Linked DNA regions of Homo sapiens. The protein of the gene in region 1 interacts with the protein of each later gene in a pairwise test. Each region holds a gene or a part of one and is shown on either strand. Other genes may lie near its edges.

The links. The genes of interacting proteins can lie anywhere in the genome.
Region 2: the proteins of REEP3 (region 1) and C3orf52 interact in binary tests that used the Homo sapiens proteins (3 or more experiments, as listed by UniProt).

The regions. Positions count from the first base shown.
Region 1 is NC_000010.11:63,517,538-63,524,400, reverse strand, and holds the start of REEP3 (receptor expression-enhancing protein 3), read right to left. Parts: upstream 3,001-6,863; 5' UTR 2,856-3,000; coding exon 2,824-2,855; intron 2,664-2,823; exon of another isoform or gene 2,511-2,663; intron 1-2,510. UniProt on the Homo sapiens protein: Microtubule-binding protein required to ensure proper cell division and nuclear envelope reassembly by sequestering the endoplasmic reticulum away from chromosomes during mitosis.
Region 2 is NC_000003.12:112,089,385-112,096,412, reverse strand, and holds part of C3orf52 (TPA-induced transmembrane protein), read right to left. Parts: intron 3,054-7,028; coding exon 2,924-3,053; intron 1-2,923. UniProt on the Homo sapiens protein: Has a role in LIPH-mediated synthesis of 2-acyl lysophosphatidic acid (LPA). LPA is a bioactive lipid mediator involved in different biological processes, and necessary to promote hair formation and growth.

The sequences.
Region 1 (6,863 bases):
CAGGATCTTGGGACAAAGTGCTTCTACATACAGGGTGCTTTGGTTATGGAGGTTCCCTGCCCATGCTACCAGAGGTTCATGTTGAGAGAAGGGTCTGATCTTGCTCAGGAGGAGGTGGTTGTCTCAGTGGGTTAGAAAGAATCAAGTAAATTCTACCTCCTGGTGTGAAAAAGGTTTCCAAGTTTGTGTAGATCCTGTGATTGCTCTTTCATGTTTAGAGAGAGAAACTGAGTAAAGAGGAAAAATAGAATGATGTTTATATTCTCTACAAGTGTGCTTTCTAATGTGCTAATGTGTTCACGGCTCACAAAATAACAGTTCCTGACACTTGAGAAATACATTTCTTTTCATGACATTTTCTTCCTCACATTATTGCTCCCTGTCGTTAGCCTCAAACCTTACATTCTGTAGCTCAAGTACTTTAACTGGAGAGAGGCTTTAATCCCCTCTCTCCAGTTAGGGAGCCTCCTAAGGAGTCTCCTTGTCTTCCAGGTCTCCATTGCCAATCATTTCACAGAAGGGCAGAGAATCTTCCAAAGCAAAGCTGTTGCTGCCTTATAACATTTACCCCTTCTTTCTTGAAAACAGGCCCCAGGCTACCTTTCCAGCTTGCTTTTTCCCCACCCGAGTCCCTCACGCCCACTGTAACTAATCTGGGCTTTTCCTCCTCTGGGCTTTGGCTCACGCCGGTCCCTATATCTGGAATCCTTTCCTTTTTCATCTTTGGCTGCCTAGATTCTGTCCATTCTTTTTTGTTTTTTTTCTGAGGCACAGTCTCACTCTGTGGCCCAGGCTGGAGTGCAGTGGCACGATCACGGCTCACTGCAGCCTTGACCTCCTGAATTTGAGCGATCCTCCTACCTCAGTCCCTGAGTAGCTGGGATTACAGGTGTGAGCTACTGTGACTAGCTAATTAAATTTTTCTTTTTTTGTGGAGACAAGGTCTCGCTATGTTGCCCAGGCTGGTCTCTAACTCTTGTGATCAAACAATCTTCCCTCCTTGGCCTCCCAAAGTGCTAGGATTACAGGTGTGAGCCACTCTACTGGGCCTATTCTTTAAGGCCCATCTGAAACGTAATCTCCCTTGCCTTTTCTGATTCTCCAACCAGATATCCCTTCCTTGTCCAACACTGGGTATTAGAGTGGGTGTAACTTTTACAAGAGTTGACATTTGGACCTGTACTGCAGATATCTGTGCACCCAAACTGTCAATTCCCATGATCAACTACGTGTTACTGACCTTTGTGTTATAGGTAGCACCTAGAACAGACATTCATATTCATTGGCAATTATGAAAAACAAAAGTCTAAAAGTGCTTCACAATTTTCTGTCAGCTGAAGAACTGGTCAAAGAAATCCAGAGGCTTTTTTTTTTTTTTTTGTAAAGTACAGCTTCTTAATAGGGCACTTGATTTTCTAGGTGTGGACACAACAGTTGATAGACATCTACTAGGTCAAGAAAGGTATGCCTGAATTAGATAAATGACAGACTCAAAAGAGAGGCCAGGAAAAGGCTGAAAAACAATCTGAAGGCATCTGTGGTATCCTTTTGTTTATATCTTGATTTTTAGTTTCGTACAGGGGAACACAGGAAGCTCTGAGGCTTTAAAACTAGAAACTTTGCGATTTAATCAAATGAAAAATTTTGAATGCTGTGCTGCAAATCTGATTAAATAGGGCTAGTAATTCACTTCCAAACAAAATAAACCCCAAACTCAGAAAATCTAGCTCCTTTTAACAAAAAGTCTGGTAATGTTATTTTTCCTAAATTCTAAAGCTTATCAGAGAAGCCTGCCCCCTCACATAAACATTTTTTCATATACCTTTATGAAACCTTCTGAGATAACACTACTACAGAGGTGAATAATGAATTCATAGGCCCTAGCTGTAACTACGTCATTGTTTACTTGGTGACTTTTTTTTTAATCGGGGAGAGGGGTAAAATGGAGATGAGAGAAAATCAGTTTAAACTGTATTCAAATACATTTACACGATTAACACCACCAACTCAAGGAATTTCTTTTTCTTACAGACCTGTAGCACTTGTTGGTAGGAGAACAATGAAATGAACCCATAATTTGAACAAAGGCAACAGGCACCTGCAGCCTTTCAATCACTTAGCAAATATTTCCGCCGAGACAGGGCCGAATTCGGGGATCTGGGCGAGCAGCCGGTGTCACCTTTCTCGGTAAGCTGCAAATCTTGGGAAAACTAGGACCCTTCCCAGGGATCCTGGGCTGGGAGCGGTCTCCGGTTTTTAGACAAATCTCTCCTCCTACCACACGTGACCGAATGGCAATCAGCCGCCAAGAGAGACACCGCAACGCATCAGCCGCGGGATACAAAGGCTCGGCACTGCCGTCGCATCCTCGGGAGGATCGCGGAGCCTCCCGCGCTCGGCGTCTGCGGAGCCTGCGCAGGGAGCAGCTGCGAGGCGCGCCGCTCCCGGGCCCGCAGGGCGGTGCCGCGCTGCGCGGGGAGCAGGAGCGGGGAGCGCGCGCCGCCTGCCCTGAGCGCCTGCCCACCCAGCGCCGCCGGAGCAGGGGCGCCGCGCCGCACCGCACGCAGCCGAGCAGCGCCACAGCCGCCGCCGCCGTCGCAGCCGCAGTCGCCGCAGCTAGGCCCTCGGCCGTCGCAGGGAGCTCCGCAGCGACGTGGACCAAGGTGAGGAAGCCGAGGGCTCCCCCAGACCCTCGGCAGGCCCGAGGCCGGGCTACCCCGTCCCCGCCCAGGCCCAGGCCTTCCCTTTCCTCTCGGCTCCTTCCCCTTCCCACAGCTCCCCTGGGCCTCGCGCCGGCTGCAGGGCGCAGTGAGAGGCACTTACACCACGGCTCTGGAGATCATCCAGGACACCATCTTCACGGGGGCTTGGGCCCCACGTCCGGGGCGGGTGGGCGCAGGGCGCTGCGGACCAGGCCGCCAACGGCAGGCCGCGCGCTTCGCCGGCTCCTCGCGCTCCCCGGGGCCGCGCTGGCGCCCTCAGGAGCCGGGCCCGGTGTGTGCGCGCGGCGGCCTGGGCTGCGCAGAGGTCGGTCCCCCGCCCGTCCCCGCCCGCCCCCGCCCGCCGGCCCGGCAGCCTAGTCCGGACAGCACCCCGCCCCTGCGCTCCGCTGATAGGCGGTGGCGGCGGCGCGTTGGCCCGGGCCAGGGCTGGGGCCAGGCGGCCGGGCTCCAGGGCTGGGCTGGCGGGATCCTAGCCCGCGCTGGACGGCCTCGCTGCCGCGGCCTTGGCCCCTGCGCTCTAACCAACCTTACCCTCCTTAGCTCTTTGGGACGCCCACACTCGCGGCGAGAGTGGGGCAGGAGGCTGAGGAAGGGTACTGGAGGGTAGGGATTGGCAGTGCCTGTGTGAAAAGTGAGATATTCGCAGGAACTCGGTGTCCAATAAAACTCTCGACCAGGCCCTGGTTTTGGAGAGCCAAGACTTTGAGGTGTGCCTGGCCACATCCGGTATCCTCAGTGTTTACGGAGGCCCAGCACCAAAGGCGTCCTTATATTACCACATTTTAAAGGAATCGTCGAGAGGTTCTTGCACAGGCCTCCGTGTGTGCCACGAGTCTCGTGGTGCAATGCAGGGAGGGACAGAGGAGGATTTCATGTTTGCAGTAGTGGGTGCAGTGATACCACTGTTCTGGGCCTCTTAGGGCACCTTTTCATCAGAGCATCTGCAAAGACTGTTTACAGACACGAATCTCCATTATTTCCCTGAGGCCTGCCAGATGTTCAAAGTAAAGGCTGGGTCTAGGATTCCTGACCTGTCTTAAGATTTACAACTATATTACAGCTGTAAGATTTACAACTGTATTTTTTGGAGGTTGGGTTACTGCTTACACCTTGCTGTTCTTGCAAATATCATTTCAAGGGCAGACTTTTAAAACTGTTTTTTTTTTTTTTTTGTGACAGTACCAAATTGAGAAAATGATGTTAAAGTTTAGATATTTTTATTTTTTCCAGTTAAGACGATAGTAAAAGATAATTCTAGTATTCAGATGGTGCGAAGAATAAAAGATGAAATGTAGGCTTGGAGCCTTTAATTAAAGTCCTAGAAAATATGATGGCTTTTGTGACCATACTGTAATTTTGTCTTCTTGTTCCTCAGTTTCCCTGTGATAAAAAGGGGGTAATAATACTGTAGTCTGTCTCTTGCCTTTCAAGGGTGATATGAGGCACTGCTAAATAATATGTTTAGGAAATACTCTGACTTGCATGGAAGACAATCAAAGGACACAACAGATTATCCTAAATTATTTTCAGTTCTCAGTCAATAAATTGGGTAATATTTCATTATTTAAGAAACAAGCTCAGAAGCTACTTTCTACTCTTGGGTTAGGTTCTTTTCGCTTATTAATTCATGTCAAGACTTTTTATTTCAGGAATTTGAGTAATAATTTGCATTTAACTCTGAATCTTTTATTTTTGGCCATTATTCAGCATTATTTGAGGATCAGGTGTGCTGCATAAGCACCAGTTTTTTGGCGAACTCTCTTGTTCAATAAAACTCAAATGAATTTGAATATCATTCAGATCCCTTCATGAAAGGTCCTGAAATAGCTTTACAGCCTTTACTTTTACTACTTTCACCCCCAACTCCTAATGTACCCGTTCCCTACCTCTCTTCTTTCAGCCAACCTGTATTTTCATGCTCAGTGCTTTTGCCCAGATTTCGTTTTTCCCTTAACACTTTGCTCCCCATTCTGTACCTATCAGAACTCTCATTTTTCAGTGGCCTGTGCCATGAAGACATCCTTGGTTTTCCTCAGGGACAATTATTCCTAATTTTGTCTGTGCTCTCATAATTTATTACTTGAATTTCTATTTCTTATCTGTGTCATTCTGCCTCTACCATGTCTAATGTACTGAATGGTAAAATGTTTGAGAACAGACATGGTGTATTAGATTTCTTTGTGTTTTCCAACTATCTAGCCTCAGATAGGGTAAACGTCCAATAAAAATTTGAATAATGTTTGTGAAATACAGTCACTCTTTAGGCATCAGATTTAAAAAATTTCAGCCACGTACATTGGAAGTCTCTTAAAAATGTCTTTCTTGCCTTTTTACTTTGGAGGTCATCATTGTGAATATTAATTATTTCAGCTAATCCTAGTACATTAATGCCTTCAGGGGTTGCTGAAGGCAACCTAGGTAGGATGGCTGGCTGCTCTCTGAAATGTCCCTAGACTGCTGTGCGTTAAGTTTCATTTTGTATGCTTATTATATCTTCTGCCTCTTCCACATTTAGATTACTTTTTGCTGCTTTCTTTCTATTTACCTGGAACAGTGCCTTTTTTCACATCTCAATAGGCCATGGGTTGGAAACCACCTACTATGTGCTATACACGTGTCATTGAGTCATTCTGACAACTTAAAAAGCCATATAGCGTTTATTCCCTTTTGGTACCATGGAAAGTGAGGTTTAGAGAAGTTAACTCAACTGGCGGGTGATCACATAGGTCATTGGTAACAGAACTGGAGATCTAATTCATGCTTCCCAAGCTTGTTTACATTATACTGGGATAGATAGCGGAACTGTGTTTAAGGCGGTGGGTCCAGCTTGGTGTTGCCCTCCAAGGGGAAACTGGAAGGCATTTTTTAGATTGTTGTAATGATTGGAGCTAACAACTTGCATTTGTTGAGTGAAGGCTAGAGAGGTGTGGGACAGTCCTGAACAAAGTGTCCCCATGTCTTGCATGATTTAAGAATATCTGCCTGACTTTCATGTAGTATTTGTAATTATCAAAGCCTGGAACCTCCATCTTGCATCATGATTTTAACTGAGACTGAATTTTAACTGAGTCTGTTTCCACATGCAACGGTTATGTGAATTGAAGGAAGATTGTTTTGTTCACAACTTGACCAAGAATTGTTTACAGTTTTGGAAAATTGTATCACAAACAGCTCTGCATTCATAGATATATTCAGCTACTAGTTACTTCTTTAAGTCTTCTAGTGTAGTTTTGCCCCACGTCGAAATATATGTTATTATAAATCATTTTCATGTCTCTTTTCCACTCTTATTTAGGGTATATGGATTTGTTTGAAATTGTAGGAATATTGTTATTTTGTTTCAGGGTGGTAAAGCAGAAGTTGGAAAATATTTTATGCAAGGGGCACATTGAATCTGATGTGGTTGAGAACTGTTGATCTAAAGTAAGAGTAACTTCATCTGAGAAGAGTCTCTCATGAAAAGTGCCCAGATTTTAGTGGAGGGTGTTTATAATTTCTGTGTATTGGACTGTGTCTCAGATACACAGAAATCTGCCAAATTTATTAGCAGATAGTTGAGATTTGCTAAGAAATAAGTGGCCATTATGCTGGGTGCGGTGGCTCATGCCTGTAATCCCAGCACTTTGGGAGGCCGACAAGGGCAGATCACTTGAGGCCAAGAGTTCGAGGCCATCCTGGCCAATGTGGCAAGACCTCATCTCTACTAAAAATACAAAAATTAGCTGGGCATGATGGTGCACACCTGTAATCCCAGCTACTTGGCAGGCTGAGGCAGGAGAATCACCTGAACCTGGGAGGCGGAGGTTGCACTGAGCTGAGATTGCACCACTGCACTCCAGCTTGGGTGACAGAGTGAGACTCTGTCTCAAAAAAAAAAAAAAAAAAAAAAAAGTGGCCATTAGATAAGTACTTCACTGTATAAGATAAGGTGCTAGGGGCACTGGGAGAAAAGGAAATATAGTACCTTCTGCCTAGAAGCTTTTATAGTGTGGTCTCTTGGAGTGCTTGAAATCATTTCTTATATAGAAGATATGATTTCTTTAAGTACTGAACTTAATTTTGATTTTATACATATATCACTAATATTCATACATTGTGCTATATAAAGCGCATCCTTCATTGTGTTCTGCAAAGACACTT
Region 2 (7,028 bases), on another chromosome or scaffold:
AAACACATCCCTTCTGAAGCATGCATACCCTTTTTCTGTGGTATTTAAGCCCTGGGCCTTTGGGGTAATGGTGCAGGAATGCACCATCTCCTCTCACTGCTGCCCAACGCATGGCTTCTGTTCCTAAAACCCTGTTAAATGTTTCTTTCTGAGTAACTGGATTTGTCAGTTTTTCTTTAGCCTCTCAGCTTCCTCAGCCTTTCTGGGTAGTTTTGCAAAGACCTGCCTACTGAAGAACAAAAGTTAACACTTCCGCCTCCAAGCTTCAGTCTGAAGACTACAGAGCCTTGAGACAGGAGATTAAGGGGTCTAGAGAAGGGTAAGCAGGCAATGAATGGCAAATATAGTTCCTGAGGAACCTTAGTCACCCAGTAAATCCAGACAGCCACAGGCACAGCCCTTGACTCTCCCAACAGTGTTTTTATCCCCAGACAACATTTCCCATGCAGTACTTGAAAGTTCCACAAATATCTGATTCATATTAATGGGCTTGGCAATTAGGAAGTGGCTGATTATTGAAGATCATCCCCAAAAAATGCCTACGGAACTGCTCTAGGTGAGGCTGGGACTGTCACAGAAGGGAGCCCCTGCCCCACCCCTTTTAACCTACTGTATCTCCCCCCACCCCCACGTCTAACATGACTCTCCCCACAGGATCAAATACCTAAGAGCTGAGATGCCAAGTAAAATACAAGTATTTCCTTGATTTAAAAAGTAGTTTGAAAAAATCTCTCTTACAGCATTGACATGTTCGAACACAAATTTACAGTTAAATTAAAAATAAAGTTTGCACTACAAGTGTTAAAAAAATTCTTCCCTGAATATTATCCCATAACCTTTTACATCTCCAGAAAAACTGTGGAAGGAAGTGAAATACCTTCCTCTTGCAGACTGCTCTTTGTGAGGTGAAGAGGTTAGATGACTTTTTGAGAATGGAAGACAGATCCTGGGTCTTGCGCTTTAGAATCCTGAATATTAAACCATCTAGATCTCTTGAATCATCCTTTATGATAGGCCCCAGATGCCAACAGGATCCAAATATCAACTTCTAGGATAGCACCAACTAGTTATGTCAGGACAAGATTGTGCTACTCAACCTCATTTTCAACATCCATGTGTTGGAATTGATATGAATAGGAAGTATGGCAATGCTCACACCAAAACTATTGTCCTCAGCATGACGGAGGAGGTGCAGCACACTTCATTAGCTTTTTCCTACCTTAACACCAGCTTATATCCTCAAACAGTCATCCAACACACCTGAACAATGCCCTAAGTAAATACGTAGATATGGTGCCTGGCCAGGAAACTTATGTGCTGGAGGTTGGCTGATGTCATCAAAGTTTTCCTATTCCTTCAGGAATTACAAAACTCTAAGACAGGAAATTAAGGGGTTGGGAGAAGGGGAAACAAGCGGTAAATGGAAAATGTAGTTTCTGAGGAAAATTCCTGAGAACTCCCTCTGGAGAGACTGGGGAGTTACCCCTTCTTCTTCTCATTCTATGACTGGGTTTGTAACTGGGAGCTGGACTCAACCCATGCCGCATGAAGGCTGGATCATGCTCGGGAGTATCCCAGCCTCAGTCGAGCCCCTCTCTACCATCACCCCCACATATAAATAAAAACAATTTTCTTCTTTCCCATTTTGAATTGAAATGATTGTCCACTGGAGGATGTAAAAACTTTAACGAATACTAATAATCATTAAAAAATTGGTAACTACCTAAAGAACTTTAAATGATGTGGAAGACTGTATCATGCAAATCATAAAAATAATAATGTTCACAAATAATTTTTAATGACTTGGCAAAATGATCTAAACATAATATCAAAATCCTAAAGGTAGTCCACAAGACTATAAAGAAATCTAATCTCAAATTATTTTAGAAATGCAACTAAACAAAAGACTAGAAGAAAATATGACCAAATATTAATATTACAGATGGGTTTTATGGGTAACTGAACATATATCATTTTTCAATCAAAATAAGCAACAACATGAAATAATATATGGAATAGATGTAGTCATATATAGTTAGCATTCTATACATTTTTTGTTTTATACACACATACAACACTAATAAAATAAACAGTCATTTCTAAAACAAGTTAAAATTGGGCCAAGCATGGTGGCTCATGCCTCTAATCCCAGCAATTTGGGAGGCCAAGGCAGGCAGATCACTTGAGGTCAGGAGTTCAAGACCAACCCGGACAACATGGCAAAACCCCGTCTCTACTAAAAATACAAAAATTAGCTGGGCGTGGTGGCACATGCCTATAATTCCAGCTATTTCGGAGGCTGAGGCATGAGAATTCCTTGAACTTGGGAGGCAGAGGTTGCAGCGAGCCAAAGTCGTGCCACTGCACTCTAGCCTGGGTGACAGAGTAAGACTTTCTCTCAAAAAAAAAAATAAATAAATACAATAAGTTAAAATAATGACAGCTTATGGACACATGGTTCTTCAAAGTTTTTTAAAACTCTTTCAAATACATTATTTATTATTTTATCATCATAGTAATATATCAGACACACCAGATGAAGTATAATTATTTTTAGCAAACAAATGAAAAGAAAAAGAATTCAAATCAACAGGTATCAGGATATAAATAAAATATAAATCAGTGTTTAAGTAAGTTGAAACATTAAGAAACCTCTTCAAGATCCAATGAGCAGAGTTTAAAGTAAAACACTGGTTTCTATATTTCTTCTGGAGCTTATAAAACAACAAAATACAACAACAACAGAAAACAAAAACACAAGAATCAGGCATATCTCCCACCCATACAATATATTCCAAGCCGGTCTTAAATTCACATTATAAATAATGAAATGGCTATGAGTACATCTTCCATTTCAGTGTAAGTCACAAGCCTTAAGTAAGTTCTTAAAATGTGTTATTTATTCACATCTAAATCCTCTTACCTGCAGCAAGACATAAGCCTATGATGATCACTGTAATGACACCTAGGAAAATGGAGGTGATGATCATCCACAGTTTGCATCTTCCAACCACATTCTTATTACAGGAGCTCCAGGGGCTTTCCTTGTTAGCCTAGAAAGGCAGAGGGAGATTGTGAGGCAGTCATTGTGTTGCAACAGACAGTTCTGAATACCTAGGATGTGCCAGAGACACAGAAATGAAGGCAGCAAGACCCTGACCTTAGGGCAACACTCTACTGAATCAAGTTTTCAAAAAGAGAGATCAGAGGCAGAACAGAACCTCATCAAGAAGTTAGCAAGAAAATCCTCTGGGGGCTCTGAAGTGGGGAGGATAGGCAGGATTTTGAAAGATGGATTTTTGAAGGCATTCCAAACCCAGGAAAGAGCATCCAAAGTGTGGATTCGTAATGGAACCGGCCAGCAGACTAGCCTGCCGACTGGAATGTGGGTTTCAGAGGCAAATAATGAAAGTTAAGATTAGAGAGAGTGAAAGGCTGGGAGCACACTCAGAGGGTGTTGATAGCTGTCCCAGAATAGATTGGACTTAATTGGGTGTGCACTGGAAACTTGAAGGTTTTGAAACACCAGAGCCGAGTTGAAAATTAAGGGAAAATCATGTGTGGTTTAGAGTGGAAACACCAAGAAAAAGCTACAAGGCTACTGCTGTGGCCTAGGTTCTATGTAAAAAAGGGTTGGGAAGGGAAATGAAAGGACAGCTGCAAGAGACAACAGGAAATAAGCTGCAAAGCTGGAGTGAGAAGGCTGGAGTGAGGCAGAGGAGGGGTCAATGAAAACAAGTACAACTGCTATGGTTTATTGAGCACCAGCGTCATTTCACTTAACCCTAACAGCCCTTCAGGGTGTGCACTAGTCCATTTCAAAGACGCAATTCAGAGAGATGAGCCAGAACCAATCCCTGCTGTGTGTCTCCACAAAGCTCTCCAACTTTCCCTTTTGTCCACATCACTGTGCAGAGCTCCGGTTTATGAGGGTGTCACAGAGGGGCCCCCACCTTACCCTATATGGTCCCATGACTCTTCTCCTACTTCCCACTCCACCATTAGATAATTCTTTCATGGAGACCATGGGAAACAACAGAATACAATGGGGAAAAAATGTGTCTGTATCTAACACACTTGGATTCCAAACCAAGATATACCACTTAAAGGCAAGGTGGCTTTAAGCAAGCTACTGAAACTCATAGGCCCCAAAGTCCTCAGCTTTAAAATATATAAATAGTAAATTAGCTCACAGGACTGTTGCAAAAACTAGAGATAATGGACACAAAGCATCTGCTAAACAATTATTGGGAGTTCGGCCAAAGGGTGCAACTGCGCCTCAGTCATTCCTCAGCGTTCACCATCCCACAAAGCAGCAGCCGGCACTCGAGGAGACTCGCTCCTGACCGACACCTGGCCACCTGGCCTGCTTTCTCTCCCATTCTTTTTTTTTTTTTTCTTTTTTTCTTGAGATGGAGTCTCGCTCTGTCGCCCAGGCTGGAGTGCAGCAGCACGATCTCCGCTCACTGCAAGCTCCGCCTCCCGGGTTCACGCCATTCTCCTGCCTCAGCCTCCCGAGTAGCTGGGACTACAGGCGCCCGCCACCACGCCCGGCTAATTTTTTGTATATTTAGTAGAGACGGGGTTTCACTGTGTTAGCCAGGATGGTCTCGATCTCCTGACCTCGTGATCCTCCCGCCTCAACCTCCCAAAGTGCTGGGATTACAGGCATGAGCCACCGCGACTGGCCTTCTCTGCCATTCTTATTTTGGTGCTGGCCATCAGAAAACGAATCGGTCAGTCCACACTTGGACTGTATTTCCAACCTTCTCAATTAGAGGTGCCCAAGCCTGGCTGCACATCAGAATCACTGGGTAAGGATTTTAACTGACACATACCTAGGCCCCACCTGCACCTAGTGGACCAGATTGTAAGGGAGGTGGGAGGAGGCCATGGCAGACCTCTGGTCTGAGGCCTCCCACCTTTCGGGAGTTAGGTCAAATCTCCCCTTTGGTGGAAGCCTCCCTCCCCACCTGCCCTTAGTGAGATCTTCCAATACCTGAGCTGTCCACATAGCCCATCTGCTGTTGCCACTGACTGCCCTGTCCGGTTTCAGGTTCAAAAACAAACAGAGCCTGGCCTTATCTTCCTGCGTAAACTGAAACCACATAGAGGAGGGGTGCTCTTAAACTGCCCTGTTCTTATATTCCACACCTGTGCCTTCTACAAGTAATATACATTTAACGATTGTGGGCTGTTTAGTTGTAGAGGCCTCCCAGAAATTTTAAGAATGGACTTTGAGAAAATCTAGATGAGGGGACAAATGTTGGATTTCCCAAGTGCACTTTACACTGACTCTGAGGCCTAGCCTGTCAGAGGTGCGAGGGGAGCACTTAAAGGCCCTAGGGATATCTTGACAGAGGAAATCCCTCTTGAGTTAAGTGCATTTCTGGAATCCAGGGATAGGGTCACCTCTCATCCCCACTCAAAACCTGCAGAACTGCTTCAAAGCCAGGGGAAGCCACACGGGAAAAAGACATCCCAGTACAAAGAATCTTCAGTTTCTCAGGGGACAGAAACATCTCCCCATTTACAGAGCTCCTGAGGCCAAAGCCCTGGTGCTATTTTCAGCCCTCATAAAAGGCAGCTGGGACCCATAAAGATTAGCACAAAAGGAAATATCTAGTTTCAAATGAGCCATAGAATGAGTGTCAATGCACCTCCTTGGCCTCTCATGCCTTTATTTATGCTGTCCCTTAGAGATCACAAATTAGGACTCTGGTGTGTTGAAAAAAACCACTAATTACTCTATGACTTCCTGGAGGAACTCAGCTTAAAATTTTACAGCCGTCATCTATAGGAAATGCCTCTTCCTGTAGCCTAGTGCCCTCACTGACCTGTCCTCAGCTCTAAGAGGAAGACCGCTGAGCGCTATCCCTTACATGATTAATATTCACAGACTTTATGTCATTATAAAATGGTCTGTCACAACAAAAAATAAAAATAAAAAAATAGCCAGACATGACGGTTTACACCTGTGGTCCCAGATACTGAGGAGTCTGAGGTGGGAGGATCGCTTGAGCCCAAGAGGTCAAGGCTGCAGTGAGCTATGAGCATACTACTGCACTCCAGCCTGGGTGGCAGGAGTGAGACTCTCTCAAATGAAAAAAAAAAAAAAAAAAAAAGCACATGAAACTGTCAGACACTCCCAGCCAAACAATAGACTGTACAGTGCTTCTCAGCTGTCTGCCCATTAGAATCAGCTGAGGAATTAGTATCTTTTAGAAGTAACGCCCGGAGATTCCAATGTGCCCTGAGGGTGAAGAGCCTGTGACACAGTAGGTGTGTGCTACCTGTGCCATCTGAGTCTTGCCTCAAAACTGGATCATGAAGACACACTGCCTTCTTCACTGGCTTCATCTCTCTTGCCCAAATTCTAGATCGTGAGGAGAGGCCACACATAGATTCTTCTGCAAGGTGCCTTCCGGAGATATTTGCAACTGCATCTTACATTCTATTATTGTTTTACATGGCTTAATAATTTACATTTGCAATCTGCATCTTATATTCTGTGATCATATTATATGGCTCAAGAATTTTCAGGGCTTTCCTATGAACATTCCCCGGATATTTACATCCGTCTTTAGATAAAGGTCTAAATACATGACACAGGATCCTGCAACAGTGGCAGGATACCTATCTCTTACATCTAAAAAGCCTTTCTTCTTTTTGACTCAATCAGAAGCAGATATTATATAGATCAGGGAAAATTTTCTTACAGGTAGGAAACTCTTCATAATACTCATTGTGGGATTTAATCCACTTGTTTGATCCAAGCACAAAAGAGCCAGTTGATTCTTGTCCTAAACTGAACAACACGTGGCAATGGAGCTAATTTTTAGCTAGCTCATTGAAATAAATCTTTTTTTTTTTTTTTTTTTTTGAGACGAAGTTTCACTCTTGTTGCCCAGGCTGGAGTGCAGTGGCGTGATCTGGGCTCACCACGACCTCCGCCTCCCAGGTTCAAGCGAGTCTCCTGCCTCAGCCTTCCTGAGTAGCTAGGATTACAGGCATGCGCCACCACACCC